2 separate regions of the Homo sapiens genome follow, and region 2 is linked to region 1. Evidence: fine-mapped expression QTL. A gene starts in region 1. The other region holds a variant in brackets. All regions are shown on one strand. Distances are between the middles of the regions.

Region 1 (16,591 bases):
TCACCTTTTTCAGTGGTATTGTCATAACTTTCAGAACCTTTAAAAATCTGTTTTCCTCATTGAATGGAAATCATGTGTGGGGGAAGTGGGGGAAGAAGGCGGGGAAAATAGGAACAAGAATGTAGTGTTTTTTTTTTTAATTATTTAACTATAAAGATACTTGTTCTGGTTGGAGTTGGGCCATTCTACAACACAGCTAACTCTCAATTACCACACTCATGGACACAGGCACAATAGACAAAAATAAAATATGGCCTTAATGCAAATCACATATTTTCATTTAATCGTAATTTTATTCTTAAGGTTTAAATTACAATAAATATTTGTATAGCGCTTTTGATTTTAAAAATTTGTTTCCATACTTTGTTTTAGATAGGGGAGGATAAATTACAGAAACAAATAGAATCCTCAAAATTCGGTTCCTTAAAGAACAGGAAGTTTATTTCTTTGGTCAGGGCAAGGGTTCCATATTAGCAGCAGCTCTGTTGTATGAAGTCTTTCAGGGCCCCAGGCTGACAGTGGTTCTGCAATCTTCAATATGATACTTATAAGATTGCCCTAGGAATTGCCATCCCAGTCGTTCAGAGACTGAAGAACATTAGAGAACATTCCAGAACATGAACCAGGTCTGGAAGCGGCATATATCACTTTTGCTCCATTTCTTTGCCAAAAAATTAATCTCAAAACAGGAAAATCTGGTATTCTAGCTATGTATTCAGCCCAAACCTTGTTTGTGTAGTAAGATGGAACAGACCTTGGTGGTTAGGTTTAGCCACATGTGTTAAGTCATTAGGCAAACAGATTTTTAAAACTTCTTTCTGCTTTTTGAAGGAATGAATCAACAAGTCTAAGCCAACTCTAGGAAACAAAAAAGCAGGAGAATAAGAAATAACAGGGCCCTTGACTATGTAGGAAATGAATAAGTAGCACCTGAATAATAATAAATTAGCACTGGTCGAGGTGGCTCACGCCTGTAATCCCAGCACTTTGGGAGGCTCGAGGCTGGCGAATCACCTGATGTCAGGAGTTCAAGACCAGCCTGGCCAACGTGGTGAAACCCCATCTCTACTAAAAATACAAAATGTAGCCGAGGGTAGTGGTGGGCGCCTGTAATCCCAGCTACTCGGGAGGCTGAGGCAGAAGAATCGCTTGAACCTGGGACTTGGAGGTTGTAGTGAGCCAAGATCGTGCCATTGCACTCCAGGAGAGAGTGAGACTCCATCTCAATAATAATAATAATAATAAATTGGCTGGACATCTCATTACGTAAATGAGACAGAGTACTATAATTCTGTAGGTTTGGTGATAATAGATTAAAAATATATTCTAAAGTCTATTTTGATTATAGTTTGTATTAGCTACCCGCTACATAGCATGTAGTGAATCCTTGGTATTGGCCCCTACATGATGAAAAAATAATTTTCGACTTTTGACCAAGGTAATTTAAAGGCTAAGCCATTGGCTTTTAGGAAAAGTTAACTTTTAAACACCAAGATTGTTGAGATAAATGCTACCCTCCTCTAAAGCTACATGAATCAAGAGAAGAGTACTGTTAAAGGAATTGACAAAGTGATAAACTGAACGTAATGAAGAGTAATGAAATAATCCAATGTAAATGAATATATGATTTTTTTTAAAGGTCTTTCAGGCCAGGCACAGTAGCTCACGCCTGTAATCCGTGCACTTTGGGAGGCCAAAGATTGCCTGAGCTCAGGAGTTTGAGACCGGCCTGGGCAACATGGTGAAAGCCTGTCTCTACTGAAATACAAAAAGTTGGACATAGTGGTGCATGCCTGTAGTTCCAGCTACTCAGGAGACTGAGGCACGAGAATTGCTTGAATCCAGGAGGTGGAGGTTGCAGTGAGCTGAGATCGCACCACTGCACTCCAGCGCCTAGGAAGCAGAGTGAGACCCCGTCTCCAAAAAAAAAAAAAAAAAAAAAGGTCTTTCAAACAAGTGGGAAAGGATAAAGATGGACAGATGGACTATTCAGTTAATGCATTGGCAAAACTAGCTATCCATTTGAGGGGAAAAGAAAATGAAAGTAGATACCTGCCTGCCTCAAACCATTCAAAAATTTTCAGACAGGTTAAAATACTAATCATAGTAAGTATAACAATATTGGAGGATCATGTAAGGCTTTTTAAACCTTGATAGATTTTGGTCTTTATTTCAAGATCACTGGAGGCATACCTGAAACATTTTAGCAAAGGAATGATGGGATCAAATTTATTTTCAAAAGATGTTTCTCTCAGCTGTGTGTAGGAGAGGGAAGAAAGCACAATTATTAATGCAGTTAAGAGGTTGTTTCCGCAAACTGGTTAGAGAAGACAATAGTTTGATCTAGAATGCTGGTAATGAGAAATGCAAGATAATTCTAGAAATGTTTAGGAGTTAGGGTATGTGTGGGTACAAGGAATGAGTATGAAACTAAGCAGTGAGTAGTTTGAAATGCCTGGTAGGGTGTACTAAAGACTTTTTGAACTTTTTTCCTAAAGATATATGGGGAGCTAATAATGATATCTATACTGAGAAGAGACATGATAGATTTGTTTAGTATGAATTCCTCTGAATCCAAGTGAGAAACGATGGTGGCCTAAACTAAGGCATTTGCAGTAGGAATGTTATGATGTATATGGACTTGTGATTGATTGTGGGATGACCCTGAAATTTCACTGAGATATGGAGGAGGTGCAGATGTAGAAGGAAGACATATTAATTTTAGACATGTTGAGTCAGAGGTGCAATGTCCAGGAGGAAGTTTCCTGTAGGGAGCGGGCAATATGAGTCTGAAGCTCAGAAAAAGACCTTTGCTACAGACAGAGATTGCAGGGTCATTAGCACTTTAGTATCCAGCTGATTCTGTTGGTGCTTCCACTCTCCGTTCTCTGGAATCCCAGTTCTGTGCCCATGCCCTAGTTCTGTGTGCATACCCCACTTCTGCAGTCTTTTCTTGTAATAGCCTCTACCTGTGACTTTTTCCTCAGTGGCATACTCTGGAGCCACTGGAGCTGTTCAACCCGCCAGGAAGGACGGCCAGACCCTGACCCCAAGGGAGTTTATGTCCGTTTGTTTCCCTCTTCCATTGCTAGTGATCAATGAATGACTGGTGAAGAAATAGGAAAGCCCTTGCTTTGAGGGTAACAAAACTGGGTATAACATATACTCCAGAGCTCCCTGAAAATAAGGCTGATGCTGGGACTTTACTTGAAGGCACATGCTGCTTTTTGTTTTTGCATTGTTTTTGTCCCATGTTCTCCAATTCTCTACTGACAAAGAGTCTCTCCTTCACCAAATTTTAGTTAGGCTTCTCTCAATCCTCTTTCCTACCCTCGACGTTTGAATTTCCATGTCAAATGTTTGCATCAGCCCAATTTTATTAAGAATCCTGCTAAGTTTGTTTATCCAGAATCTTCCAGCCTGCCTTCAGTAAGAATCTTGTTAGGTAGGTTTAGCCAGACTATCCCCTTACCTCAGAAGTTTCCTTTTAGTAATTTTCCATTCATCTACCTTCCTCCACTCCCACTCCTTAGATATAAATTCCCACTTTTCCTTTTTTTTTTTTTTTGCATTTGAAGTTCAGCCCAATCTCTTTCCCCTACTGCAAAACCCCCTTGCAGTGGTAACTATACCTACTGTGATAGTCTGAATAAAATCTGTCTTACTATACTTCAGCAAGTATCATTGAATGAGATTTTTTTCTTTAACATTATCCTTGTCCCTGGAAATACTACCTCAATAAATCCCTTTTCCATACATTCTTGTCTTAGGGTCTACATCTGGAGAGTCAAATTTAAGACATATGATAATTAACACAGTGATAGCTATGAAGGCAGCCTAGGAAAGCTGTGTAAAATGAGAAAAAAAGGCAACCTAAGATGGAATCCTAGGTTGAAAGCACTATCACTTACCACAGAGGCAGAGAAAAAAGAGACCAGGAATGATACTGAAGAAAAGAGGCAGAAATGTTGTGGAATGGGTGAGGTATTGTGAATAGAAAGTGTGGTATCAGACATGAAAACCAACAGAGAGAATTTCAGGTCAAGAGTATGAAATTATACAGAGAAGTCAAGTTACTTCAGGATTACAAAGAATCAACTAAATATTGCAACAAAGGGGCCTCATTATACCCTATTAAAGATTGGGCATTTTTAATATTTGGAAAGTCAAGACTGTTAATACCATAATATTGTTTTTTTTTTTTTTTAAAAAAAAGGTATTTTTGAGCACCTGTTGTGGCAAAAACCCTGTGCTAGTGATACAGTGGGGGGACTGAATGACAGTCCCTGCCAGGAAGGGTCTGACAGTCTAATTACAGTCCAGTGTAATAAGTGTTTGCAAAGTTGAAAGTCAATGAAAATCATTAGAGGTACACAGAAGAGTCAAAATCTGTTATTTTCTTTATTAATGACTCTATAACCTTTTATACAATTATTGTGTATTATACATCTTATTTAATGTACCTTCCTACTGCAATTCTTTTAGCAGAGTGTCAGGGAAACATGTATGTTCATGGAGGGTCAAGCATGCTGACCAATGTACTTGCAAGTAATGCAAAAGAGACATTTCTTCATTGTATGGATATCACTTGTTTTCTTATTTATTTGCACATTTATTTTTATTTTTAGGAAAAAGATTCTTTCAGCACATGATGAAACAAAGAAAATATCTTCTGTTGTTAGCTTTGCTTTTATGAATAGTTTGTTTTTTAACTGCAAATTCATCTTGCACTAATGGATGGTCTGGTAAACAGATTATCTGCTCATCAGTAGACTGTCTGGCTCTATATGGTTTAGTTATCATAGTTTGGAAAGGCAGCAACTTGCTGTTACTTTTTTCCCCTAGCCTCCAAATCTGCAGTGAAGAGTGGCTTCAACACAGCACCTGCTAAAATTTTCACAGGAATCTGCTATTTACTGATGGACTCTGCACTTTGGGGAGCTATAGAGATAACATTATCTCTTCGCTGTTTCTTATCTTATAACTTTGTAGCAGAGGAAATCAATGAATGTTAGTATCTGTTAATATCTGCCTTTGTTAATGTAAGCATTAGAAACTTGTACTTTCTGGGTGAAACTACTGAAGTCTTGGATTTTTTTAAATTCCAAGTTGCCAAAGAGGAAAGAGGGAGAATACTTAGTCATTTTATATCCACAGCCCTCTACCCTGCTCCTTGCTTGTAAATCCCCACTTGGCCTTTTAAGAGTTGAAATAGAGTCCAATCTCTCTCTCCTCCTGCAAGACCTGGTTGCAGTGGTTCTGATCACCATGGACCCCCTTGAATAAAGCCTGCCTTATTATCTTCAACAACTTTAATGACTAACTTTTTATTCACTAACTCTCCCTCTTAACTTTCTCTACCATGTTCATCAGACATGCAGTTAGTAAGGCATGTATAATGAAATGTAAATACATTTGGCACTAACATCCAGTGTTATTATGTTTATAGGTCTACATTTCTACACTTTTTAGAATTTATCTCTATTTTGTAGCTATTCCTGAAATGATGTTGAAGTAGAACAACAACAACAAAGTCTTTGATCTGACTATTTTTTTTTTTTCAGACAGAGTTTTGCTCTTGTTGCCCAGGCTGGAGTGCAGTGGCGCGAATTCGGGTCACTGCAACCTCCCTCCTTCTCCCAGGTTCAAGCGATTCTCCTGCCTCACCCTCCAAAGTGGCTGGGATTACAAGCATATGCCACCATGCCCGACTAATCTTGTATTTTTATTAGAGACGGGGTTTTGCCATGTTGGCCAGGATGGTTTCGAACCCCTGACCTCAGATGATCCACCCGCCTCGGCCTCCCAAAGTGCTGAGATTACAGGCGTGAGCCACTGCGCCCGGCTAATCTGACTACTTTTTAAGGAGGTTCAAACTTCAGAAATAACTGTAAATATTTGTTCAAATAAGAGAAATATTTAGTCTAAAATATAAATCAAAGAAAGGGTACGTACAGATTAAGCAGTGTTTGCTGTAAAAAATGTACACATTTATTGTCTAATAATACATCAGTATTAAAACTCAGTTATGTTTCCTTTATTGTACTCCACAATTATAACCATTTACAATTATTGGTAGTTTAAATAACTGAGATAAATACTGTAATTATGTAGACTTCATTACTTGAATATTTAAGAAACAATTTTCTTCCCAGATGTAAATTTTTATATTACCTTTATTGTTTTAATTTTACTTTTTCTGTTTCATTCTTAGATTCAGGGAAAAATATTAAATTATTTCATTATCACCTTGGAGCCACATTGCTAAATAGTTCAGATATTACAAATCTTTAGCCAAGACCAAATTGTGTTTTTTTTTTCAATTTATAGCCCAATTATTAATATTTAGAGACCATGTTTCTTTTATGCAGTTCTTGGTATCATCTTTTTCTATAGCACTACATTTTACACAGTTATTTCTTGCCTTTTACGGCTGGGAATCAAAACACATACGAACTTCAATTTTGTTGTAATAAACGTTAAAATTTGTGAACATTTTTAGTACTTCAGTAAAAAGCTCACTCATTGGCAGAAGCGTTCCCCAGATCAGGAAAAAAGGAATTAGGATTATCTATGACCACAAAGTAACATTAATTAATAGCAGTCTTTGGGAGCAAGCAGCAGCGCCTTTAAATCTTAGATTCTCTTGTGTCTGCAAATTATCTTTTATCTTTCAGCTGTGAAATTTTGTCTATGAAGTAATACCACGAGCAAATTAGCAATAGGATTGCAAGGTTTTTATAGTCCCGTGCTGTAGAACAATTGGCAGTAATTTGAAAAAGACCGTCCATAACGCTGTTTTTGGTCTGCGGCTAAATTTGCAATTGCATAGTTTCATTAAGGAGAACTGGAAAGAGGGCCCAGAAGTTGTTCTAGCAATCGGCAGCAGTTTATCTATTTTAAATCGTAATGCATACTTTTTTTTTCCTCCTACTGAAAACAATGGCAGATATGCTAAAGGGAAGGACACATTCTTGAACTGCTAAATGGTTTTTCCAGATAGCCATTTACGGAGTGCACTCAATTGCCACTATCTGGCTGAAAGCAAAAGCACACACGACGGCCCCTTTTCTTTTTTCCCTTTGCAAAGCGAAACAGTCTAGACGTGTTCACGTGATGTGAATGACGTCAGCCCCCGCCGGGTCGCGTGACCGACACCCAGCCTTCCTACTACCTCCCCCTGACCGCCAGAGTGGGAAATATCGCGAGAATTCGCCTTACTATCAGAACTTACTGAGGTTGCAGGGGAGTTACTCAGAAGGGAAGGGAAGGTGTGGTTGTGCGGCGGAGTTTTTGCTTTCATTCTTTTAACGTTCACAGCCAAAGCAAAGGCCTTTGGGGATTGCCAGAGTCTCAGCCACCATCCTGGAAAACAGCGGGGGAGGTGGGCCTGGAGGTGGCAAGTGTAATGTGGCTCAGGGGCCGTCATTGCCCCTTGCAGAAGGGGCTGCGGGGGAGGGAGAAAACCTGCGCCCGGTTCTGGGGAGCTGGCGACGCAGTGAACCCTGCTGAGGCTGGGTTTTGCCCCGACAGTCGCTGGTGGCTGTGGGAAGGGTTGGGACCCTTCTCTGAGAGCAGTGAACAGCCCACATCCGGCCCCTGCTGTGTCAACTCTGAGCGGCGTGGAGATGAAGTGGTTGCTCTCCCTTGCTCGGCCCACCGGGTGTCGTGGCCCGGGAACCGGCCTGGAGAAGTCCCTGCTGCCCGGCGCCCAAAACAGGGGCGTGGGCTTCCGCGACCCAGGGCGGCTGCCCCGGGCCATCCTCGAGTTGCCCTGCATCTTCCCGCTCAGTCAGCCCCAGATTGAGGCAGCCTTCTCTGTGCGGGTTTAAATGGGTAACTGTGACTTCTCGCCTCATTCACCCAAACCTCCAGTCTTCTCCCCCGCACATCCTCCTCCACCCACCTGGTTTCTCCCTAGACTGGTGTGCTCGTGTGTGCAACCAAAGGAGGGAGTGCGAGAGATCCACGAAGGGACAGGCTTGGAGTCGCTAGAGGGAGGTGTGGGACCAGCGAGGAGGGGGCTTCGCCAGGGAGGGGGTGCTGGCAGGCGGAGGGAGCGGCGGGAGGAGGCGCCGGAGGAGGAGACGGAGGCCTGGGGACGGCAGAAGAGGCTTCGCCTGAGCCGAGCGCTCTTTCTCTCGCCGCGCCGTCTTGAAGCCGCGCGGGCTCGTGAGCAGCGCGAGGCCGCCAAGGTGCCTCGCTTCGCCGGAGCCGCTGCCGCCCGCCGGAGGGAAGCCGGCCTCGGGCGCGCACGCTCGTCGGAGCCCCGGCGCGCCCCGCGCCTGAGCCTGCTGACAGCGGCCGCTGGGCTCAGGCTGTCCGCTCTGGGCTCCGCGGCCTCGGCCCCGCTGCACTCCACCTCCGCCCCCTCGGACTCCCTCCCCTCTGCTTCTACTCCTCCTGCTCCAGTGCGGATCGTTTCGCAACTGCTTGCCACTCGTCCCGTGCCTGGCTGTTTTTCCATTTCCCGGCCCCCTCTTCTTGAGTACTTTACCCCCTGCATTTGGGGACAGGGACTGGAAAAGGGGCGGGTGGAGCGTCCAGTGGAGAAGAAGGAAGCGAGGCCCGCAGGAGGAGGAGGATCGGCGGACTGTGGGGAGGAGACCCCACGCCACCCTTTCTGGTCATCTCCCCTCCCGCCCCGCCCCTGCGCACACTCCCTCGCGGGCGAGCTACTTTCGGACCAGGAAAGTAAGAGCGGCCCTGGGTGACAGCGCCGCGGGGCCAGTCCCGGGGTTAGCCGCGCGTCTGCTCGCTTCTGGTCCGTCGCGCTCCCAGCCAGGGCACAGCCCGGACCGAGGATGGCTTCGACCACAACCTGCACCAGGTTCACGGACGAGTATCAGCTTTTCGAGGAGCTTGGAAAGTAAGCACCTTTGCCCGGCATCCGCATATCCCCTTTCCAGCTGAGGGCGGGTCGCGTTGCCCCCGACCCACCGGCCTCCGTCTTGGGGCGAGGGAGTTTGGGAGAGGAATGGGAGGAGGGCCCCTGGTTTGTCAGCTCTGGGGAAGGTGCTGTCTTAATAAAGGGAGGGAGCACAGAAGGGGTAGGACCCTTACTCCAACTGTGGCTCATTTTGATGGTCCCTAGCCCACCTTCTCCCGGTCCCCCACCCTCCTGCACTGAGAGACTTAGTGAATTTACGATCTCTGCAGTTGTAGCTATCATCCTGAGAAGTGTGCGCGCGCGCCTGTGTGTAATGTGTGTTTGGAGAGGAAATTAGAACCCATGTAAAATGCAACATAGATCATGTTTTCTGTAAATAGAGATGCCTCCTGGTTAGCCGGCGTGTCGGCCGTATGACCCAGGTACTGATGAGAACTCACAGCCTCAGACGGTGCCATATTTATTGATGCCGAAAGTTCAACTTGGCATAGAGTCTATTTCGCATCCAGTAGTTGTTCTGTCCAGGAAAAGGGCCACCCAACAGAACCCAACCCCTTGCCCTATATCCAGTGTTGTTCTTTGCACCAGATTACCGCTCACCATCATTCTTCCTAGGATTTACGTGTGCATCTTTGCGTTCTCTGGGAGGATTTATTTATACAGGCAACGGAAAAGCCCTCTGGAGACTGAGAGCGCTCTTAAGCGTAGCCTAGCATTGTGTAAAACCACCTCCTTCACCCGACTGGCAGAACTACTTGGAGATGTTAGGGAAGGAGGCAGGAGACCTACTGAGGACTTATGCAAAGGGACCTAGGGGCCAAGCCGTGAATGCTGATTTTTGTAGCATGGAACCCAAACCCAATTCCTCTTTCACTAGTTTCGACTGTTACTTTTATGAAAGGAGTGCGTTTATATGTATGTTGTTGGTTTATACTGTAATTAAAGGAAAGGTAAATATTTTTAAAAGTAATAAAAATTACATATGTATATATTGTCTGGTGTTAAAACATGGAGAATATGTCGGAAGAGCAGCTTAATTCAAATCTCTCCCCTCCCCCAGTCCAAAACAAGGCATAGAGAAATCACCATACCAGGATTTGTTAAACCACACTAATGTGCTCAAGATTTATATTTTAATGAAAATAATCGTCATGTTTACTTACTTGGAACCACATTAATTTTTTGTTTCCTACCAAAATAAGTAGGCAGCAGATTTTTTTGCTGCTCCTCGTCTGCTCTGTTCTGTGCAGGGTTTTTCTCAGAGCATTTGGTGCTGTGAGTGTGAACTGTAAAATGTTTTCAAATTTCTTGTGCAAACAAGAGCGGTCATAATTGGCAGTTCCTTTCATTTTGTTGATTAATAATGTGTGCTCCCAGTTAAATAAAATTTACTTTTATTCTTCAACATTAAAGAAAGTCTGGGTTTCCAGGAAGAATTGTTCATTTACTGGATATTACTGTACTTCACTGGCAATCCACTAAAATCAATAAAAATGCTCAGATTTTATAAATTTTTAATGAAATATTATATCTGTTATATTAATGACCTGCTAATTATTGGTTTCCAGGGGGGCATTCTCAGTGGTGAGAAGATGTATGAAAATTCCTACTGGACAAGAATATGCTGCCAAAATTATCAACACCAAAAAGCTTTCTGCTAGGGGTGGGTATTTTCAACCACATATATTGGTTAATTTTGTATTTGTCATGTTGATTATAGGTTCTGTTGTATGTAAATATATCATGTAGTTATAACTGAACTTTAGACTTAGGTATCATATTATATATTAAGATTATTTTCTTCCTGAATGCTTCTTGGTCTGTACAGCTTAAAAATACATGGAAAGATATAATTATTATTTGATACATTGCTATTAAAATTCTATCTGTCCTATGAGCAATAGCATGAATAACTATATTTTAAAGCAAATAAATGTCAGGTGCATTTTGCTTATAGTTTAAGTATAAAACAACTTTTAGACCATGGAATGGAAAAATATAAGTCTCACAACTGTCATAATTCCCTTTTGCTTTTGAGAGGGAAGTAGGTCATAGCTCAGTTGAATCATACATTTCAATTGTAGTTACACTTGAACTTAATTCATCAAGGTATATTTAACAGTAATAGCTTTGGTAAGAAAATTTATGATTGCTATATTCTAGGAAGTTTAGTTTTATTTTGATGTTTCTGTGTGCAGCTCAGACCTTGGTCTTCGCATTAAGGCTTCACACAGACTCATGTAATGTATTTTACACATGTAGTTTATAGGTACAGAGATAATTCATACTCGTAAAATAGCTGTTGACATAACCAAAAAACTTGGAGGGCTCTCACTGCATTCTTTTTATTTAGTAGAACTCATGCAAAAGTACTTACGCTGAAATGTTAGGCATTCCAATTATTGTGGGCACGTGTCTGAGGTATTTCCATGGGAATTTATGGTATAAAAATGAAATGAAAATGAACAAAATACCATAGTGTACGCTCATCTCAGTGACCTGGTTTATTTTAAGTAATGAGAGAAGAAATTCCATTAGGTTTAGTTTTCCTCATTTAATATGTCTTTTCAAAAGTGCTTCTTACCAAAATCCTGGCATCATTGCTTTCGGTCTCTGCCATGATTAGTTTTTCCATATTTATTGCAAATTCTACTTTTAACATGCATTTTAGGTTTAGGTTGGTATTTTAGTTTATCCATTCACATGGGTTGTTGTTTTAATTTCCTTCATCTGATTTTGACATGATTCTGAGAAAGATCTATAAAGTAACCAGCACCATAGAATCATGGTATGAAAACTAATGAGAAGAATATTATGTTAATTATGTTCTCTTAGTCTCTACTCCACAGAAAGGTTTTAACAATGAAAAGGAATTGCTAAACTATAAGTGACATTTTAATTTAAAAAAATGAAAATGTGTAGTTAGAATCTTTCAGTGCTTCTCTTATTTTCTTCTGTGTGCTAGATACTTTTGGCTGTGGTGGGGGTATCATTTCTTTTGAAAGCATTACAATACCTATTCCAAGATTTTTGGTGGTGTTTCTTTCAAAACAAATCAGTGTAGTGCTTCACTTTTACTAACTTTCTTAATTAGAGCCATCCCTCTTCACTCATCTGAATTTGTCCTCCCTAAATCAGAATAACAAATGTACTTATCCCTGGTCACATACATTTTACTCTCTTTTCCCTTCAATCTGTGGAGAAGAAGCCTTCTTTGGCCTGATGGAATCTTTTCTCCTTGCTACTCCACCAGTGTTTCCTTACTTGCTCATATTCTGCTTCAAAGAACTACCTACATGTCCCAAAGCTTTTTACCGCTTCTGGATGTAATGATTTTCATTATTCTACTTAGAAAAAGGAACTAGGGTGAAGAGTTAGGAGACATTCTTCTTGCCCGTTTTCTGCAATTTTTTTTCCTTGTGACTTTGGGCAAGTTTCTTAACCTGTTGTAGGTTAACGTACCTAAGAGTGAGCTGGTGGTGAAGAACATTATTAACGCTGCAACCAGAAGCTCTTGAGTTTAACTTCTGCTGCCCATACCTACTGGCTGTGTGATCTTGAGCACATTAACTAGTTTCTCTGAGCCTCAGTTTCTTCATCTGTAAAATAGCAGTAATAACAGAACCCTTCCTCATAGGGTTTTGTGTGGAATGAATGAATTAACATAGCATAGAACAGCACCTGCCCCACTATATGCAGTCAATGAATATTATCTGCTATTATTATCTAATAAAATTGTCATAATGATCAAATTAGATTACTTTTATGAAAGAACTTATAAATCCAGTGGCAGCCTTGATTTAGCTGTGAGAACTACGTTTGAATCTTTGCTCTACTACTTAGGCATAAATTTCGTTTAGTCTCTTTCCTTTTCTGGATATCAGGTTCTTCATCAGTAAAATGGGAAATCATACTCATGGAGTCTCATGGGGTGTTCTGAGGATTCAGGGAATTCAATGAGAATCATTTCTTAAACTGCAAAGTATTGTGTCAATTTTACCTCTTATTATTGTTCTCCTGAAAAATTACAGAACTTTTCCTTCAAAATGGTCAACAATTTTATTTTATATTGTCACACTAATCAGAACTGGTTGTAGAATATTTGTGCCTTTGAATGAATACGTTTGTTTAACTTGTACTCATATTGAATTATAAACTCTTGAAGAAGAAAATACCATGCTTTCATTTTTTGATACAACATTCCACAGAATTGAGAGCATAGAAGGGGCTCAGTACAGAGTAACAAGAATCAAATGTGGTTGTTAAATGACTTGTAAGAGTTAAGTACTTAATTTACTCCTAACAACAAGCAAATACTGAAAATAAATCCGTGAAGTAGTATATTAAGAGGATATGTCTTAACCTATGAAGTCTTTTAATAACACTCATTTCAGAGAAGATGATACAAATCATTTTTGCAGAAAAATTTTTAAAATAATGAATACGTTCAAAGGCAAATGTAGAAAGAATTGCAAAATAGTATGCTTGTTTTTTCTAAGGTACTGATTTTTGAGAGTTGCATATGGAAGCTTTTGTGGAGCATACTTTTTTTGTGCAAATTTTTGTTTGTATTTGAAATTCCATGACTCTGTATACCCAAGCCTTTAGTCTATTTGTTTTAAAGACCAGGCAGGTCCTCCAACTCCACTAATGTTCTTTAAATGTAACATTACAGCTGAAAAAGAAAGGGCTATTGTTAATAAATCTAAGACCATGAGGGAATTGCCAAAGATTTGGCTACATTCCTGCATAAATTTGCACATCCAACTATACTATCAACCAGGCATTTTTCTGTGCCTAGATTTTAATGGATTTCCAGCAGACAGTTTCAGTTGTATTTCCTCTCAGCTGTTAGTCATACATACCATATTTGGGGAACTCTGAGTCAATTGAAGAATTTCTTACCTTTTGTGTTAGCATGTGCGTGCATAGAACATTCATTATACTGAGCATGTAGATGGGTACACTCATATATAATTTGGCTTATTTTGAAAATAAGTAGTATGGAAGCATCTCAAGCATCTTATATTTTATATGTAATTTCTATCTTCTAAAAAGTTTTTGTTAGATGGGCATTGAGGGCATGCTTAGTAAATGTTGAATAGTGATAATAGAATTTTTGCCTTATATTTTCATGAGAATTAGAAATTACGCCATTTTAATCCCAAGCACAGTTAGATTAGTACTTAACAAAAGCCAATTTTTTTCTGCTGCTTTGATATTCTGTTTATTTATACATGTTTAGAACTGTACACTGTTGTCAAATTATATAAAGTCCAAGAAGAGCTGTGACTGCAGTTCAGAATCCAGTGGACTGATGGTTCTGATGGCAGATAATTTAGAAATAGTACCTGTGATTTATTTTGCATTTCAAAGCCTCGTGGTGGTAAAATATTTTATGTGGAAGTAATGGCTTCTTGACATTCATCTCCCAGTGTATTTCTTGATCGTTAGAAACCATTTGACTATTACATAGATTCTGATGTGTCACAGTCACTGTTTTTGTAAAATATAATACATTATAGTATAGGGTTAAAAAATAAGTTATTACAACTGTATTTTACCTCTACTCCATTGCTAAAGTTAAAAGGGATTTCATTTTATATTTCTGTAAAACTTCAGGCTTAATCAGTTAAGTCATTTTGATATTCTTTGATTTTACTAGTTTTATTAATTCCTAAATTGGTGATATTAGTAGTACATGAATCAGGACTTTATAAAACTACTTGACCATGTATGCAAAATTAGGCCTCATCTATAAAATCTAAATGTTTTGTGTGTGTGTGTGTGTGTGTGTGTGTGTGTGTGTATCCCTAAGTAACCTTTTTTGATGTTGTAAAAGGGATGTTAAAAACTAATTCTTGCTACTTTTCTTTTATTTTTGGCTTCCAGGCAGTCAAGAAAGTACTGTAATTTCTCAACTTCATGGTTACTTGTCTTGAATTGGAAGTAGAACTGAGACTATGTAGATGGATTAAGTTCTGATTATACATTATTGATTTGGCAAATTGGAACAATTTGGACAAATTAAAATTTGAAGGTTTCTTGGCAAGAACAACATTTTAAGAAAAAAATTAGTAAATCATTTTTATATTTGTACATAGAATCTCCACAACTCTTCAGTTATGGACCCAGAAGTGGCATGTGTCATCCTTATTATTTTGTATCCTTTACTTACGTTTAGTTGTATTTACATTCTTCTATAGGTCTTGATATTAAACATTCATTTTCTTCTTTCATTGAATGAAAGCATTACTGCTCTTCAGAACTAGTTAGGAGACACAAATAATAAAAAAAAAAAGTATATCCACACTTCCAGGAAATAATAGAATTCTTTTCTGTATTTCATTAAATGAAGAAAATAAAGAAAGTGGTTGTCAGGTGCCATACTGTGATATTAATAACTAGTGTAAACCTCTACCTGATTGTGTGAGAACTTTGTTTAGACAATTAGATTAATACTTCTCATTTCCATTGAAATGTTGAATAAACTGAATATAAAAATTAAAATTTAGCAATATGTCACCTTTTATGGATCTTTTTAATGGTAATAATCACGAATTACTAGAAATCTTACATGTACTGGGCTTTTCTTGGGCATCTAACTTTTTTGTTAACTAGAATTTTAATTTATTTTTAAAGTCTTCCTTGGGCTTATACTGAGGTTGACTCATAGTATTTCTAGGGCTGGATTGGTATATTTTTTAACATCAGTCTTCCCCATTTATTAGGGTGTAATGTATGCAGTGTTTTAATAAATCATTGGCAATTAATGATTATATAGAGGCTGTGTTAAAGATTTTAAGTTACAATAGTATTTCTAGTAAACTACACTGCAATGCATTAAATGGAGTATTAGCAATATTTTAACTGTAAAACATATCTTTATATTTCAAATCACTTTATAGATCATTAAGCATATTCACATGTCTTTATGTGTTTATTTAATAAATATTAAATGATTTCAGTGGACAGTGTTAGGAAAAATAAAGGCTATCTACCTAAATAAACATAATAGAAGACATGAATGGCATTACAATTCAAGCATGAATAAAGTACTATGGGCTCTTAAAGGAGGACAAGATTATTTCTGCCCAGGGAGATAAAGAAAGCCTTTCATATAGTATTGATTTAAAGAAATTTTGAAAGCTATAATGTAGATGGGGCTTAAGTACCACCCCCGCCCCCACCCAACCGAAAAAAAAAGTCTAAATAAATGATTTGGGGAAGTTGCTCAAAGTAGTTTAAATATCTGATTATAACAAAATGTTATGTTATTCATATGGTAAATTTGTTGTAATTATCAGTATACAGTTATTTTTAGAATAAAATTATTTTAAATGACGTAGGCTGTTTCTTAAGTGACAAAATTCCTCTAATTCCAGTTGAGAGATTTAGCAATACTTAAGGAGAAATCATAGACCTTTTATCTGCCATAACTTCTCTTACTCTAGCATAGGGAAATTGGTAGGTTTGAAGAGGAGAGAGGGCAGCTTTTTTGTTAAGTTTGTTTGGTTTTGTTTTTAAATCTCTTAGCTATCATTGTAATTACACACAATGACACAATGACATCACTGATTTTTTTAGTTACCTGAGCCCCTTTTCTGGTGTTACAGTCTCATTTTAACTCCTTAGAACTATGTTTATTACTACCAAAATCAATAATGCCATCTTCATCATTAATAATAATTTAGAAAAATA
Region 2 (16,591 bases), 41 kb before region 1:
AAGCTAATAAATAGTGCTTTTTATCTCTCAATTTTAAAAAGTATCCAGTTAAATGGCTTTGTTATTTAAATTAAGAAAAATGATGGCACACAAAAAGGGAAAAATGTCTTTAGTCGACAAAATGTTGGCTCATTTTGTTCATCAAGTTATTCCTTTCATGGCAATGAACAAAGGGAAATTTGGATTATTGAAGTGAGGGTTTTAAACAAACACACAGTGGAAAATGGGAGGATAAGGAATTTCTGACTCTCAATATTTGCTAACTTAAAATTTTAAATATAGGAAAACACTTCAACAATACTGACAGAGTTACCATCAACCGTGTATAATTTCTGCAAAATCATTCACCATCAAAATGCAATGCTTCTCCTAATGCTAGTATTCATTTCCAGAATGCAATTTGATTCAGAATATAATAATGCAAGAAAATAAATGATGAAGAAAGATACACACACACACACACACAAACACGCATACACACACACACACTCACACACACATACTCCTAAGGAGTGCAGTTCCTTGAAACAAGATTCCTGACAGTCAATACATTTCACATTATCCAATATCTCATAAATCTTCATCCAACTAATTCCTTCAATACTGAGAAGTAAAAAAATATATAGTAAAAAATGTTTGCACATTGTTGCAAATCATACTAAACATTTGCCAAAAAAAATCTGTAGGTCGGGAACTGCTGTTAATATCAAGATAATCACTACTAATGAGGTGATTATTCAGTGCCATTATAATGAGAACTGCTGTAATTTGGATATTATGCTTACCATTTCTCAAAACTATCAAAAGGTTTTCTGTTATGTATTACTCTAAAGGCAGAAAAGATCTTTTCTTTTTTCTCAAAAAAGAGTCACAAAGAATTATGTAAAAAAAATTTTTTAAAGGAATAAATTAGAATGTATTTTTAAACTTGGAATCTGTAACAATTATACCTAACAGTAGTAATTCGGACACTATGCTCTGAGTTCTGATTCATGTAATAATTTATTCTGACATATAATAGTTTTTCCTAAATTCACCCACCTTAAGACCTTTTTTCAAAGCACTTGAGTGAAAAAATATATATTCCCTGGAATGTTATGCTTCTTGGTGGCTTTCATAACTACTACTCTCTTTTCAAGGGAAACACGGGGAAAAATTGCATCTGCAAATTTGGTGTGGCAGATGAGACACTTTTGTGCCCAGGAAATGCCTCACTAAGATTATGCTAGTTTGGGGAATGGCCAAGTTTCTGATGGGGTGATGAGCATGGTGTACTTCCCCTAGGCGGGTACTCTGGTGATGTGACATTTCGCCATCAGCCCCACTTCAGAGCATGACCCGGAATGGAGAAAACTAGGGCTGTCCAGGCTTACAGTAAGCAGCATTCCTGTCTTTCAGCAGCAAGCTTTCTTCCTTCACTCTAACGCCTTTTTCTATTGCCCTTTTAAAGGGCAACACAGGAGGCAAAATGTTGCCATCATTGTTAGCTGGTAGCTATGAGAAAAGTTTTTTTTTAGTTTTTTTTTTTCTTTGAGAAGGGGTTTTTTTGTTTTTTTTTTTTGTTTTTTTTTTTTTGCTCTTTTGATTGGAGTTATTTAGGTCACGTCTAAATTGGATAATGGAAGCCAACATTTTGGTGATAAACTGTGGAGATACATATATATATATACATACACACATATAATTTTAAAAAAATTTTTTTACACAACCATCCTTAGAAAAACAGTTTAGTGAAGGCAAAAATTTTATCTCTACCTTTTTAGGGTTTTCAGCTGGGCCTGAGAATTAATTGACATAAGATAGATAACAGGAGAAAAGTATACACATTTACTGAGTATAAATTTTAGTTTTACATGACATGGAAGCCATCATGTGGAAATAAAGACCCAAAGAAGGAGTTAGAGTTGAATGCTTCTATATTGAATTGGACACTGAGTAGTAAATTACGAAAATGTGACAAGATGAAGGACTTGGGCTAGGGTAGTTAATGGTGAAAAGGGAACTAGGAAGATAAGGGTTAGTTTAACAAGGTTTGTTTGTACAGATTTTTCTCAACTCTGAGTCCCCATCTCTGCTAATGAGAATGTTATTTTCTTTCTAGAATGATGAGAATATCTTCTATATGGGAGTTCTGTCTCCTGCTTTTAGGGAAAAAAAAGGGGAGGTCAGAGTGACCTTCTTGTACTTGCTGTTTTTTAGGTGCCTTTAGCTCAAAATAATCCTCACGCCAAAGTGGCTTATTTTGGAGTGGCATATTATTACACACTTAAAAAAATCAATTTCATTTTATTTCCCTATATTTCAAAATCAAACAGATACTAGATGCACATATATATGAATACTGGTAAAATTATAAATGCAAGTAATATATTCAACTTAGACTATCACTTTAAATTGGCCTTTGGTTTAAGAAATAATTCAGATACATATAGTTCATTTAGTTTTTTAGCCATGTCCTTTTAAATTTGAAGTACTTTATGCTTTCTTCAAAATTAATAAATCCTATGAAAAAAGACAGAAGACCTTAAAGTCTCAGATAAATTTTAACTTAGAAATTTATGTATATGTGTCCAATTTCTTACATGATGAAATGAAATAAATGTGGAAGATATAATCATTAATGGCACATGTATGGCAGAACATAGAATCATTACAGTAAGAAATAATTTGCTATCTAAACTCTAAAACATATGTAGTCAGAGTTGAAATTTGCAATCCAGACATCACAAATAGTCTACAATTATCATTTTTAGCATCCTTGTATTTTTAGCTTTGGGTAAACTATAAACACATTTCAACTTCATGTTGCACTGCATGACAGTGGGCACATAAAGACATGATAACTTGCTGAACTCCTTCCTCAGAGAATATACTCCTATTCATGGCCCCTTTTTCTAGGTACCGTCCCATCCAACTATTCCTGGGCATCTCATACAGCCTTATTTCTGTCACTTACTCCACCACCCAGATCTCAGCTTTTATTCCAGTGTTGGACTCTGACTGAAGGGCATCCAGTCTATTGGCTGAGTGACACCAATCAGATTATCTCACAAGAATTTAAATGAGAGACAGAAATTGTGATTTGTCCGCAGAGCAGCCAATATCCTAAACCAAAGGAACAATTCCATCAACTTCCTTGCTGCAATCCTGGCTTCCAGCACATTTGTAGTAAGTTTCTGCTAGTTAATTTACTTTAACATGCTTTTAGTTAGAGATTTTTTAAAAAAATGAACATTGCATGTATCAAAGCTTATATTATACAAATTGCATGCAATAGTAGTCCTGAGTTTGCTACAGGGGAAAAATGGGTAACCTAAAATGATGCATCTCACTGAATATGCTATAACATGAGGGGAAAAGTTAGATACCAGAAATATTCACCAAATTTGAAAATGTGAAGATTTAGAGACTTAAATCAAAGAGAGGTAGAATCTAATTCTTATCCATAATGATAAATTAAGCTAGTAAAGAGTAGAAAAGCTGGTAAGGATGATGTAAATTTCCTCAAAAACCTTCTAGGGGGGGAAATACAAAAGAATACATTTTTTCACTTGTAAATATGTTGTATTGAGATTGAGTTAACAATTTTTGGGATCCTGCTCTGAAGTGAGTGCTTTTAGAGGTAAAAGTTTTAAAGAGAACAAAATTAAAGCTTAAAGAAGTGTGGTGACTTTCTCATCATCTCAAAGCTAGTAAGAATAGAACTGAGATTCATTTTCTATTTCCTGACTTCAGGTCCAATATTTCAATGTTCTTTCTATTTTTCTTACAGTGATCTAGAAAGCTGTGAGGCAGTGACAGACTATGTAATTTTTTTCCTTTTTGGTAGTAAAAACCTATTATCAGCTGTCACATAGCTTTATAGAGCAGATGAAAACATTTCTTTAAATGAGCCTAATACCCTTGTTTTATACTGAGAAAAATTAGATTTACAGATGTCAATTGATCTGTCCCTGTGGACACAGTTAGACAATGGTCAAGATTACAGGCCAAGTGTCAGACTTGTAGTCCACTACCTCCCATTCATCTAATTAACACAATACTAGTTATTGATGTTGACATGGACTTTTAATTCTTTTAAGACAGTGTGGATATAGGTGTCATACATCTGATTGATCACTTACTCTAATGCATTAGGTATAATCACAGTAAATAAAACATATAGAAGATACACACTCCCTTCTTAATTATGTCACACATAAAAGAAATATTGACATTTGACAATAAAATGCAAATGAATTGACTGGCTCCTTTATTCTGTGCTTAACTAGACTTAAGATAGCTGCAACAGAGCAGGTTTTCATTGCTGCCATCTCAGACCCTATATCAGGAACAGAGTTGGGTCTGTCCTTATTCTTAGGATGCTCTCCAGATCCTAATAATTACATACATAGTCTTGTCATCTTTGTTCAGATAAAACGCCCTATGCAAATAGGAGTCTTAAATTGCTGGCCATTATATAGTTTTATTCTTCAGTTAAACCAGATTATAAATTTTCATATAGGAAGAGAGAGTTGTAGAGATGCTATAAAATCAGGTTCCTGAATTATAATTATCTGGTATTCTAATTTAAAATTTTTATTTTCTGAGATATTTAAAATGTAATGAAACATCACCAGCACCTAGTTTTTTGCCTATAAATTATTTTTTTATAATAACATCTTCTTATAATCACCTATTACTTCTGCACAAAAGATATTATACTGTTCTAGTCATTGTAATCATTTCCATGCCCCATCCATATATTTGCATTGGTAAATTTATTAAGAAGTTTGTTCTCAGAGCTCAGATCTATATAATTGTCAATAAAAGCTTGTGTAACCTAAAATTCATTTTATAATATTCACTCCATTTAATTTTTGGACCTTTAACATTTTAGATTTAAAAAATACATATCCAATTCCATTAATCAGACTTTTAAATATTTTTAAATAAGTGTTAATATTTTCAAATAAATATACAGCTCAATGAATTATCACAAAGTGTAAATAGCCATGTAACCACCATCAGGATCAAGAAATAGACCAACTCCAAAATCCCAGAATCCCCCTTTCCTCCTCGTCAAGGTGTATTGCTATCCTGATTTCCAACACCAGAGATTTATTCTTACCTCTTTTTGAGCTGTATAAATAAAATCATACAGAATATATTATTTTATGTCTGGCTTCTGCCACTCAGGATTATGTTTGTAGGGTAATGTGTTGTTTTGAGTAGCAGTAGTTTAATCTTTTTTCATTGCTGTAGCATATTTATTTTCCCATTTTACTTTGGTAGACATTTGAATTGTTTCCAGTTTTGGGCTATTAAAATTATACTGCTATGGACATCTTAATGTATTTATTTTGGTGCACATATGTTCCATTTCTGCTCGTTGTAAACCTAGGATTTCTGGGTCATTGGTAAACATGTGTTCACCATTAGTAAATAATGCCCAAAGAGTCTTCAAAAGTGATTTCACTAAAGTACAATCCTATGAGTTTACATTATTGCCAATTGATATGGTTTGGATTTGGGTCCCCACCCAAATCTCATGTTGAATTGTGAAACTTAATGTTGGAGGAGGGAACTAGTGGGAGATGACTGGATTATGGGGACAGATTTTTCCCTCACTGTTCTCATGATAGTGAGTTCTCACAAGATCTAGTTGTTTAAAAGTGTGTAGCACCTCCTCCTTCACTCTCTTTCTTCTGGCTGGGGCCATGTAAGATGTGCCAGCTTCACTTTCTGCCATGATTGTAAGTTTCCTGAGGCCTCCCCAGCCATGCTTTCTGTACAGCCCGTGGAACCGTGAGCCAATTAAACCTCTTTTCTTCATAAATTACCCAGTTTCAGGCATTTCTTTATAACAGTGTGAGAATGGACTAATAAGCCAATGCTTAAGATTGTCAGTCTAATTTTGTTTAATTTTAATCATTCTTTAGGTGTGTTGTTTTGATTTTTCTGATTACCAATGAGGTTAATCTACCTTTTTTATCTATTTATTTGCCACTAGGATATCGTCTTATGAAGTACCTGTTCATTTCCCCGGCCTATTTTTTTTATTGGCCTGTCTTTTCTTATTCATTTGTAAGAAGTTCATTACAGATTCTGGATACCTGTTTCCTGTCCGTTGTAAATGTTGTAAATATTGCCTCCACTTTGTCTTTTCACTTCCTAGTGGTGTCTTTTGATTAACAGAAGGTTTAAATTTTTTGTGGTCCAATTTAACCATCTTTCCATGGTGTTGCTTTAGAGAAATCTTTGCCGATCTCAAATTCAAATTCGTGAAATTTCTTCCTAAGCTTTCCTCTAAAAGATTATTGCATTAAAATTCACATTTAGATTACAAACTAATGTTTGTGTATGCTGTGATTCACTTTGTTTCATATGAATATCCAATTAACCCAGTACCATTTACTGAAAATGGTACCATAACCCAGTACCATTTTCTTCATTGCCCTGAAGCACTACCATCATTAAAAATCAAGTGACTATGTGTGTGTTGGTCTGTTTTTTAGACTTGTACCTTTGGTTTACTTGGCTAACCTTGCACCAATACCACATTGTAGGTTTATGATCTTCACATTAAATGTAAATCCTCCAAATTATTATCCTTCTTCCAGGTAATCTTGGCCATTCTGGGACCTTTTCATTTCCATGTAAATTTTATAACAGTTGATGATCAATTTGCACAAACATACACACACACTCAAAAAGCATTCAAATTAAGATTTGGAATGAATTGTATCAATTCGAACAATTTAATTGATTTGGAATCAATTTAATTGTTTTGCTATAAAACAATTTAAGAAGAATTAGCTTTTTTACAATATAGTCGTTGAAACTATGAGCATGGTATATCACTCCTCTTATGATTGTCCTCTTGAAGTTGGTAGTTTGCTGATCATAGGCATTTCATATTTCATGATAGGTGTTTGATTTCTTATGCCACTCTGAATAATGTTGTACTCTTATTTTCTAAATATTTGTTGCTGGAAATTTAAATTCATTTAATTTTTTAAATTTTTTGAACAAACAAAATTTATGTATTAA[T/C]TTCTAGTATTTATGGGTAGGATTTATATGAAATATTTATCTACACAATCCTGTCATCCTTCTACATTTGCTTTTTTCTAATCTACAAATACAAATAGTACATTCATGTTTGGGATGACCTCTTAAAGTACAACCTAGCTCATTTTGAAAAAAAATCTTATTAATATTGATTCTTTGACTTGTTCCAGTGCTTCCTCAGATCATTTAAACTTATTTTTTTATTACCATAGGAGTGCAATGTATTGCAATGTAAATACTCTGGACTTTGAAATCAATAAGATAACAATTTTGACTCCAGTTCCTAAATGTACTACTCATTTTGCTTAAAAATGTTACTAAAACTCTGAGTATTTCTTCACGTATAACTGGGCACATGGTGAGCAACCTCTAAGATAACCCCCAGTGATCCCCACCTTCTGCTATTCATGACTTTGTGTAATACCCTTCTCTTGAGTGCAGGCTGGAATTAGTAACTCACTTCTAACTAACAGCATATGCAGAAATGATTGTTACTTTCAAGGTTATGTTAAAAAGAGACTGTAGCTTCCATCTTGATGCCCTGTGTTGCTGCCCATTCACTCATTCTGAGGAAAGCAGCCACTCTCTTATGAACTGCCCTATGGAGAAATTCATGTGGCTGTGAACTGAAGGAGGCTACCAGCCACCAGCCAGTGAGGAATTGAGACCTTAGTCCAAAAGCCTATGGAGGACTGAGTCCTGCCAACAGTCACACAAACGAACTTGAAATTGAATCTCCTCCAGTCAAGCCTTCAGATGAGAACACTGCCCTGTCTGCCATCTCGATTACAGTCTTGTTAAAGACTTTATGGCAGAGGCACCCAGGTAAGCCACCCATAGATGCCTAACACACAGAAACCAGGAAATAATAAATGTTTTGTTAAGATACTAAATGTCGGGACGATTTATTCCACAGTAATAAATTACTAATAATATACAGAGTATATCCACCACAGACTATATGACCCTCAACAAGCATTCAGCATTCAATATTTCTAGTTAGTTTATAAATGAACAATTTTTATTGATCTTGTACAATATATACAATTCAATTAAAAATGCTTCAAGTGACCAGGCATGGTGGCTCATGCCTGTAACCCCAGCACTTTGCAAGGTCAAGGCAGGAGGATTGCTAGAATCCAAGGGTTAAAGACTAGCCTGAGCAATATAGTGAGATCCTTTATCTCTCTATATATTTTTTAATGCTTAAGATAATTCGATAAGTAATATCTCTGACCTCCAGAAGTGCTGAAGTGATCCTCTTAACATCTATACTTTTAAATACTAGAGGAACTAGAAATACCTGAGATAGAAGGAATCTTATAAATTTTAAAAGAATGAACTGCTCTATCAGCTTTGGGTGACCACTCCAATCTCACTACTGGATTCATTTTGTTGTGGTGTATAACACAAGAAAATTTCCCCCAAAATTAGCAGTAAATGGACTGTTCTTTAAATTTCATTGCAAATTTTTCCTATCACAAATCAACTGTAGAATGCAAATCAATCATGACTTCAGTATAAAACCTGATTAGTAGTAACTATAAAGATAGAAACTCATAGTTTCTTCAGGCTGTCATTCTTTTTATACAACTTAATGTCATAGTTATTTTCCCATCAAACCATTGACTATTACATTTCAATTTAATTCCATTGGTATGACATACAGTTTGCAGTTTCTTTCCATCATATCTTCCCCCAAAGAATTGTGGTCTCATCATGCCTTTATATAGATTTTTTCCTTCCTTAAGCAATGTTTCTAAAATAGAATGGCTTTTTAACATTATTTATAAGTACCCACTTTTCTAAACTGTTTGAAGATATTTTTCATTTCTAATTAAATTTCTAGAATAACACTGACAAAAGATAGTATTTAATGTATGTAATTCATTCAAGAATTCTTTGGATGTTAGCAGGCATACAGTCCCTAAGAGCATAATATAAAGGTGATGAAAAAAACTGGGAAGGAAAAATAAATAAGCAAATGAGCCAAACTGCATACTACTACAAATATTTATTGCAATGATTAAGATGCTTATATTCTGAATCATAAAACATAGCCATTAAGCTTTATGGAAATAATCCTGCATAAAGCTCTGTATATCTTCTTACATTTTCATAATTGATGGAAAAATATCATCTAAAATGAAAACTAACAATAAGTTCATAAATCATTCAGTGTTTCCTTTGCCATGCTTTGGGCTAATCATTCATAGAAAGCAACAGATATGTAATGCCTGGTATGTCCAGGGTAACAAATACAAAATATATCTCTTACTTTTATGCCTTCATTTTCATACTTTTGAATTAGATGGCTCCAATGCTAGCATAAATTTTTAAAAATATATCCATCATGCTTCAGACTCTTTCTTAATTATGGCCTGTGGGCCAGTCATCAACAACATTTTTCTTTCCTAGAACATAAGAGGTCTGGATTTTGCATGTCTTTCCTAGAACAGGGAAGCCTGTCTGCCAGCCAATCAGAACCTGCCAGTGGACTCAGTAAGCAGGCCTATTATTTGAATGCTTAGCTTTTCATTACACTAGCTATAAAACAAGAAACATCAAGACAAATAAGAACTTGGATTGGCTGCTAGATTTACTACCCAGCTGCTAAAGAAACCATCAGGATTCACTATATTTCACCATGTTAGCAAGAAACATCAGTCACATTAACAGCCATCTTTAAAAGCAGAGTGAAGCATAACTTACCAGTTCTATCAACGAGCCCTTTAGCTGAACAACTGCATCTGTCTGAGTTCATTTAAAAAAAAAAATTGTCAGTAATTAAATACATCTTGCAAATTTTTTTTTAACAGTTCCAAAAGCAAGGAATTGCTTCAGTTGCCCTTAGTTTATTTCTGGCCATTGTAAACATCTGGATAAGCATAATGTACTCTTAGGAGCTATTGGTATGTTAATCCTCCAGTGGAATTTAAGCAGGGTTTTTTGTGTATTTTTATAGATATATAATATTTGCACATTTTTATGGTGTCTGTGGGTATTTTGTTACATGCATGTAATATAATATGTACTTTGATTATATCGTCACACTTAATTTTATTTTATTTTCCCACTGCCTAAGTCTATTTTGTGCTGCTGTAACAAAATAAAACAGGATGCCACTTTGGGAGGCCGAGGTGGGCGGATCACGGGGTCAGGAGATCAAGACCATCCTGGCTAATACGGTGAAACCCCGTCTCTACTAAAAATACAAAAAATTAGCTGGGCATGGTGGCAGGCGCCTGTAGTCCCAGCTACTGGGGAGGCTGAGGCAAGAGAATGGCGTGAACCTGGGAGGCGGAGCTTGCAGTGAGCCAAGACTGCGCCACTGCACTCCAGCCTGGGCGACAGAGCGAGACTCTGTCTCAAAACAAAACAAAACAAAAACAGAATGGGAGATTTATAATGAATAAAAATGTATTGGCTAACAGTTCTGGAGGCTGGAAAGTCCAATATTAAGGTGCTGGCATCTCGTGAGGGCCTTCTTGCTGTATTATCAAATGGCATAAAGTGAAAGGGCAAAGAGAGGGCAAGAAAGGGCCAAATCAGTCTTTTCATAATGGTATTAATCTCACCCATGAGGGTAGAGCCCTATAGCCTAATCACCTATTAATATCTTAATGATCTTAATATCTTAGTAACCCCAACTGTTAATATAGTTACAATGGCAATTAAGTTTTATCATGAGTTTTGGAGGGGACAAACATTCAAACCATAACACCCACTGTTTTTTTTTATTTTGTTTTGTAAGATGCTAGGTTTGTGTTACCATAGCAGCTACTCTGGAGGTACAGACAATTCTTTCTTTATATTTATTAAATGACTTAAATTCTTGCATTGAGAAACTCTATACAAGCATGCCATGTTTTCATTTGCAAATATTACATGTATGTTACAAATACTAGCTTATATGTTTTAAAATCTTTACCTTGGTTAATGAGGAGAACTTTTAAAAATCCCATTTGAATTAGTGCCTTTCACAGGGAGTGACTTTTGAGTTTACCTTAAAGAATACGTAAGATTCCTCCAGCCATGAAAGGAATATAAAGGCACTGTTGCGTTGGAAAATAACCTAACCAAAGGCCTGGGAGAGCAAAAGTGCCTTGCACAGTCAGGAAGATCTATTTTACATCTAAATATATGCAAATAGAGATAAATCGGAGATAAATCTTAAAAAGTAAGACTGTATGTCATGCAATGGATTTCAAACTTAATTCGTTAGAATTTGAAGAATAGTAGATTTTTTAAACAAGGTAGTAGCATGTTTCAGACAAATCACTGTCTCCTGATAGAGAGAAAAGAGAGATAAATAATGGCAATAGAAAAGGCCATTTAAATTGTTATTCAAACAACAGTGGTGATGGTATTTTGGCCCAAAACATTTCTGAATTTATTTCATCTAATTCTCTGAAACTCTCTCCTCCTAACCAGCATTTTCCTTTTCTTTTAAGCTTGTTTTTGTTCTGACTTTCCATGTAGCTCATTATTTTCAAATTTAAAATAATTAGGACCACAAATAGACTTTTCATCTCCATGAACTTTTTTATATACCCGCCTATGCTAAGTTTATATAATCTGGAAATACTAATATAAATCATTAAGCTTTAGTTCAGTACCTTTTGACAGCTGATTAAACTTTTCTTTTCCTGAATGATAAAGTAATATTCTATTTATACCCAATTCCTGATGCTATACACTTGTATTTAGAAGAAATATGGTTATATTATTTGAATTTTGCCAAAGTAGAGTTTATTTCTTGGACACAGTATAGTTTATCTAATTTGCAAAAGGAATCCTAGGGAAAGATTAGACTCTAACTAAAGCCTATTAAGAAGTCAAACCTCGACAGCTGGCACATCTGTTCCTGTCTTCCCTTCAACTTCTACAGTCTTCCTTCTTTTAAAAAACTCTGTTTTCTTTATTTCATTGATATAGAAGAGATGTAAATATTTTGAGGGTGCATGTGATAATTTTGTATATTTATTTAATTTGTGAAGATTAGATCAGTGTAATTGATCACCTTAAGTCACCTTAAATACTTGTATTTTCTTGATGCTAGAAACATTTAAATTGTTCTCTTCTAGCTAGTTTGAAATATACAATAGATTATTGTAGAACACAGTCACCCTACTAATCTATCAAAAGCTAGATTTATGTCTTCTATTAAACTATATATTTGTATTCATTAGTCAACCTCTCCTCATCCCCTTCTCCCCTCCCCTTTCTGGCTTCTGGTAATCACCAATTTACTCTCTATCTTCATGAGATCCACTTTTTTAGCTCCCATATATAAATGAAAACATGCAATATATTTGTCTTTCTGTGCTTCACTTACTTAACATAATTATCTCCAGTTTCATTCATGTTGCTGCAAATGACAGGATTTCTTTCCTTTTTAATAGCTGAGTAATATTCCATTGTGTATATATGCCACATTTTTTATTCATCCATTGATGGACACTTAAAGATTGATTTCATATTTTGGCTATTGTAAATAGTGCTTCAATAAATGTGGGAGTGTAGATATCTCTTCAATATATTGATATCCCATCTTTTGGATATATACCCAGAAGTGAAATTGCTGAATCAAATGGTAGTTCTATTTTTTGTTTTTCTGAGGAAACTTTACAGTGTTTTTCATAGTGGCTGTACTAATTTACATTCCCAAAAACAGTGTACATGTGTTCCTTTTTCTCTGCATCCTAGCCAGCATTCATTATTCCCTATATCTTTGATAAAAGGTATTTTAACTGTGGTGAGATGATATCTTATTTTTGGTTTTGAGTTGCATTTCTCTGATGATCAGAGATGTTGAGCACTTTTTCACATACCTCTTGGCCATTTGTATGGCTTCTCTTGAGAAATGTCTATTCAGAAGTTTTGCCTATTGTTTAATTGGATTATTTGGGTTTTTTTCCACTATTGAGTTGTTTGAGCTCCTTATATATTTTGGTTATTAATCTTTTTTCAGATGGGTAGTTTGCAAATATTTTCTTGCATTCTGTGGGTTTTTTACTGTGTTGATGTGTGTGTGATAAGATTTTTAGTTTGATGTAATCCCATCTGCCCATTTTTTGCTTTGGTTGCCTGTGCTTTTGAGGTCTTACACAAAAAACTTTGCCTAGTACAATATCCTGGAGGATTTCCATGATTTCTTCTAGTAGTTTCATAGTTTGATAGGTCTTAGATTTAAGTCTTCAATGCATATTGATTTGATTTTTTGTATGTGGTGAGACATAGGGGTCTAGTTTCATTCTTCTGCATATGATTATCCAGTTTTCCAGCATCATTTATTAAAGAGACTGTCCTTTCCCTATTGTATGTTCTTGGCATCTTTGTAAAAAATGAGTCGGCTGTAAATACATAAATGTATATCTGGGTTCTCCATTATGTTCCATTGGTCTACGTTTCTGTTTTTATGACTGTAAACCATGTTGTTTTGATTACTATAGCTTTGTAGTATATATATATTTTTAATTTTTTTAGTATTTATTGATCATTCTTGGGTGTTTCTCGGAGAGGGGGATTTGGCAGGGTCATAGGACAATAGTGGAGAGAAGGTCCGCAGATAAACATGTGAACAAAGGTCTCTGGTTTTCCTAGGCAGAGGACCCTGCGGCCTTCCGCAGTGTTTGTGTCCCTGGGTACTTGAGATTAGGGAGTGGTGATGACTCTTAACGAGCATGCTGCCTTCAAGCATCTGTTTAACAAAGCACATCTTGCACCGCCCTTAATCCATTTAACCCTGAGTGGACACAGCACATGTTTCAGAGAGCACAGGGTTGGGGGTAAGGTCACAGATCAACAGGATCCCAAGGCAGAAGAATTTTTCTTAGTACAGAACAAAATGGAGTCTCCTATGTCTACTTCTTTCTACACAGACACAGTAACAATTTGATCTCTCTTTCTTTTCCCCACGTTTCCCCCTTTTCTATTCGACAAAACCGCCATCGTCATCATGGCCTGTTCTCAATGAGCTGTTGGGTACACCTCCCAGACGGGGTGGTGCTGGGCAGAGGGGCCCCTCACTTCCCAGATGTGGTGGCCGGGCAGAGGCGCTCCTCAGTTCCCAGATGGGGTCGCCGCCGGGCAGAGGCGCTCCTCACCTCCCAGACGGGGTGGCGGCCGGGTAGAGACGCTCCTCACCTCCCAGACGGGGGTGGCCGGGCAGAGGCGCCCCTCACATCCCAGACGGGGCGGCCAGGCAGAGGCGCTCCCCACATCCCAGATGATGGGCGGCCAGGCAAAGAGGCTCCTCACTTCCTAGACGGGATGACGGCCAGGAAGAGGCGCTCCTCACTTCCCAGACTGGGCTGCCGGGCAGAGGGGCTCCTCACATCCCAGATGATGGGCAGCCAGGCAGAGACGCTCCTCACTTCCCAGATGGGGTGGCGGCTGGGCAGAGGCTGCAATCTCAGCACTTTGGGAGGCCAAGGCAGGTGGCTGGGAGGTGGAGGTTGTAGCCAGCCGAGATCACGCCACTGCACTCCAGCCTGGGCAACATTGAGCACTGAGTGAGCGAGACTCCGTCTGCAATCCCGGGACATCGGGAGGCCGAGGCGGGCAGATCACTCAAGGTCAGGAGCTGGAGACCAGCCCGGCCAACACGGCGAAACCCCGTGTCCACCAAAAAATACAAAAACCAGTCCGGCGTGGCAGCGCGCGCCTGCAATCCCAGGCACTCGGCAGGCTGAGGCAGGAGAATCAGGCAGGCAGGTTGCAGTGAGCTGAGATGGCAGCAGTACAGTCCAGCCTCGGCAACAGAGGGAGACCATGGAAAGCGGGAGACGGAGACGAGGGAGAGGGGGAGAGAGTGGAAAGCGGGAGACGGAGACGAGGGAGAGTGAGAGGGAGAGGGAGCGGGAGAGGGAGCGGGAGAGGGAGAGGGAGAGCGCTTTGTAGTATATTTTTAAGTCAGGTAGTGTGATGCCTCTAGTTTTGTCATTTATTGCTAAGGAATGCTTTGGCTACTTGGCATCTTTTGTGATTCCATAAAAATGTAAGACTGTTTTTCTATTTCTGTGAAAAATGTCAGTGGTATTTTAATAGGAATTGCACTGAATCTGCAAATTGCTTTGAATTATATTGCCAACTTAACAATATTAATTCTTCCAATCCATGAGCATGGAATATCTTTCCTTTTTTTGTATCCTCTTCAACTTAACTCATCAGTATTTTATATATTTCTTGTGTAGGTGTTTCACTTCTTGGTTAAATTGATTCCTAAGTATTTTGTAGCTATTGTAAATGGAATTATTTATTGGTTTTCACTGTTTCTTGGTGGAATCTTTAGGCTTTTTAAAGTACAATTTTATGTTATCTACGAACAAGGCTAATTGGACTTTTTTTTTTTCCATTTTGGACGCCCTTCATTTTATTTGCCTAATTGCTCTGGTCAGGATTTTCAGTATTATGTTGAATAAAGGTGATGAAAGTGGGCATACTTGTCTTGTTATAGATCTTAGAGGAAAGGCTTTCAATTGTTCCGCATTCAGTCTGATGTTAGCTGTGGATTTGCCATGTTTGGACTTTATTAATTTAAGGTATGTTTCCTTTCTATCCAGATTGTATGGGGTTTTTTCCTAAAGAAATGTCCAATTTTACAAAATGCTTTTGCAGCATCTATTAACATCATTATATGATTCTTTTTTTTTTTTTTTTTTTTTCCTGAGACAGAGTCTCACTCTGTTGCCCAGGCTGGAGTGCAGTTGTGCAATCTCAGTTCACTGCAACCTCCACCTCCCGGGTTTAAACAATTCTCCTGCCTCAGCCTCCTGAGTAGCTGGGACTACAGGCGCCCGCCACCACGCCTGGCTAATTTTTGTATTTTTAGTAGAGATGGGGTTTCACCTTATTGGGCAGGCTGATCTCGAACTCCTGACCTTGTGATCCGCCCACCTCGGCCTCCCAAAGTGCTGGGATTACAGGCTGAGCCACTGCGCCCAGCCCAATTATTTGTTCTTGATTCTGCTTCTGTGATGTATCATGTTTCTTGATTTTTGTGTGTTGAACTATCCTTGCAACTCTGGAATGAATCTGACTTAATCATGGTAAAACAGCTTTTTAATGTGTTTTGGAGTTTGTTTTGCTTTGTTAAGAATTTTTGCATCTATGTTCTTCAGTGATACTGGCCTGTAGTTTTCTTTTGTTGTTGTGTCCTTGTCTCGCTTTAGTATTAGGGTAATGATGGCTTCATAGCATAAGTTTTTGGAAGTATCCCTCTTCTTAAGTTTTCTTGAAGAATTTGAGTAGAATTTGTATTAGTTCTTCTTTAAACATTTGGTAGAATTTATGAGTAAAGCCATCAGGTCCCAGGCTTTTCTTTCATGGGAGGCTTTTTTTTTTTAATGGCTTTAATCTCATTACTCACTGTTTGTTTGTTGAAGTTTTCTATTTCATGATTCAATCTTGGTAGGTTGTATATGTCCAGATATTTATCCATTTCTTCTGAGTCTTCATATTTGTTGGTATAAATTCTTTCATAATAGTCTCTAAAAATTCTTTATATTTCTAGGTCTACGTTGTTCTGTCTTCTTTT

What was found.
Region 2: its variant is fine-mapped to the expression of CAMK2D in whole blood (TOPMed, PIP 0.99).

What each region holds. Positions count from the first base shown.
Region 1 is chr4:113,753,282-113,769,872 of GRCh38, reverse strand. CAMK2D (calcium/calmodulin dependent protein kinase II delta) reads left to right here and starts at 8,135. Exons shown (of 21, transcript NM_001321571.2): 1 at 8,135-8,869; 2 at 10,459-10,553. The coding sequence starts at 8,805. RefSeq lists enhancers at 6,868-7,406, 7,407-7,945 and a silencer at 7,939-8,348.
Region 2 is chr4:113,794,183-113,810,773 of GRCh38, reverse strand. No RefSeq gene overlaps it. Among named protein-coding and RNA genes, the nearest start is that of CAMK2D, 41 kb to the right of the region's middle. The variant T/C (reference allele first, on the strand shown) is at 7,033.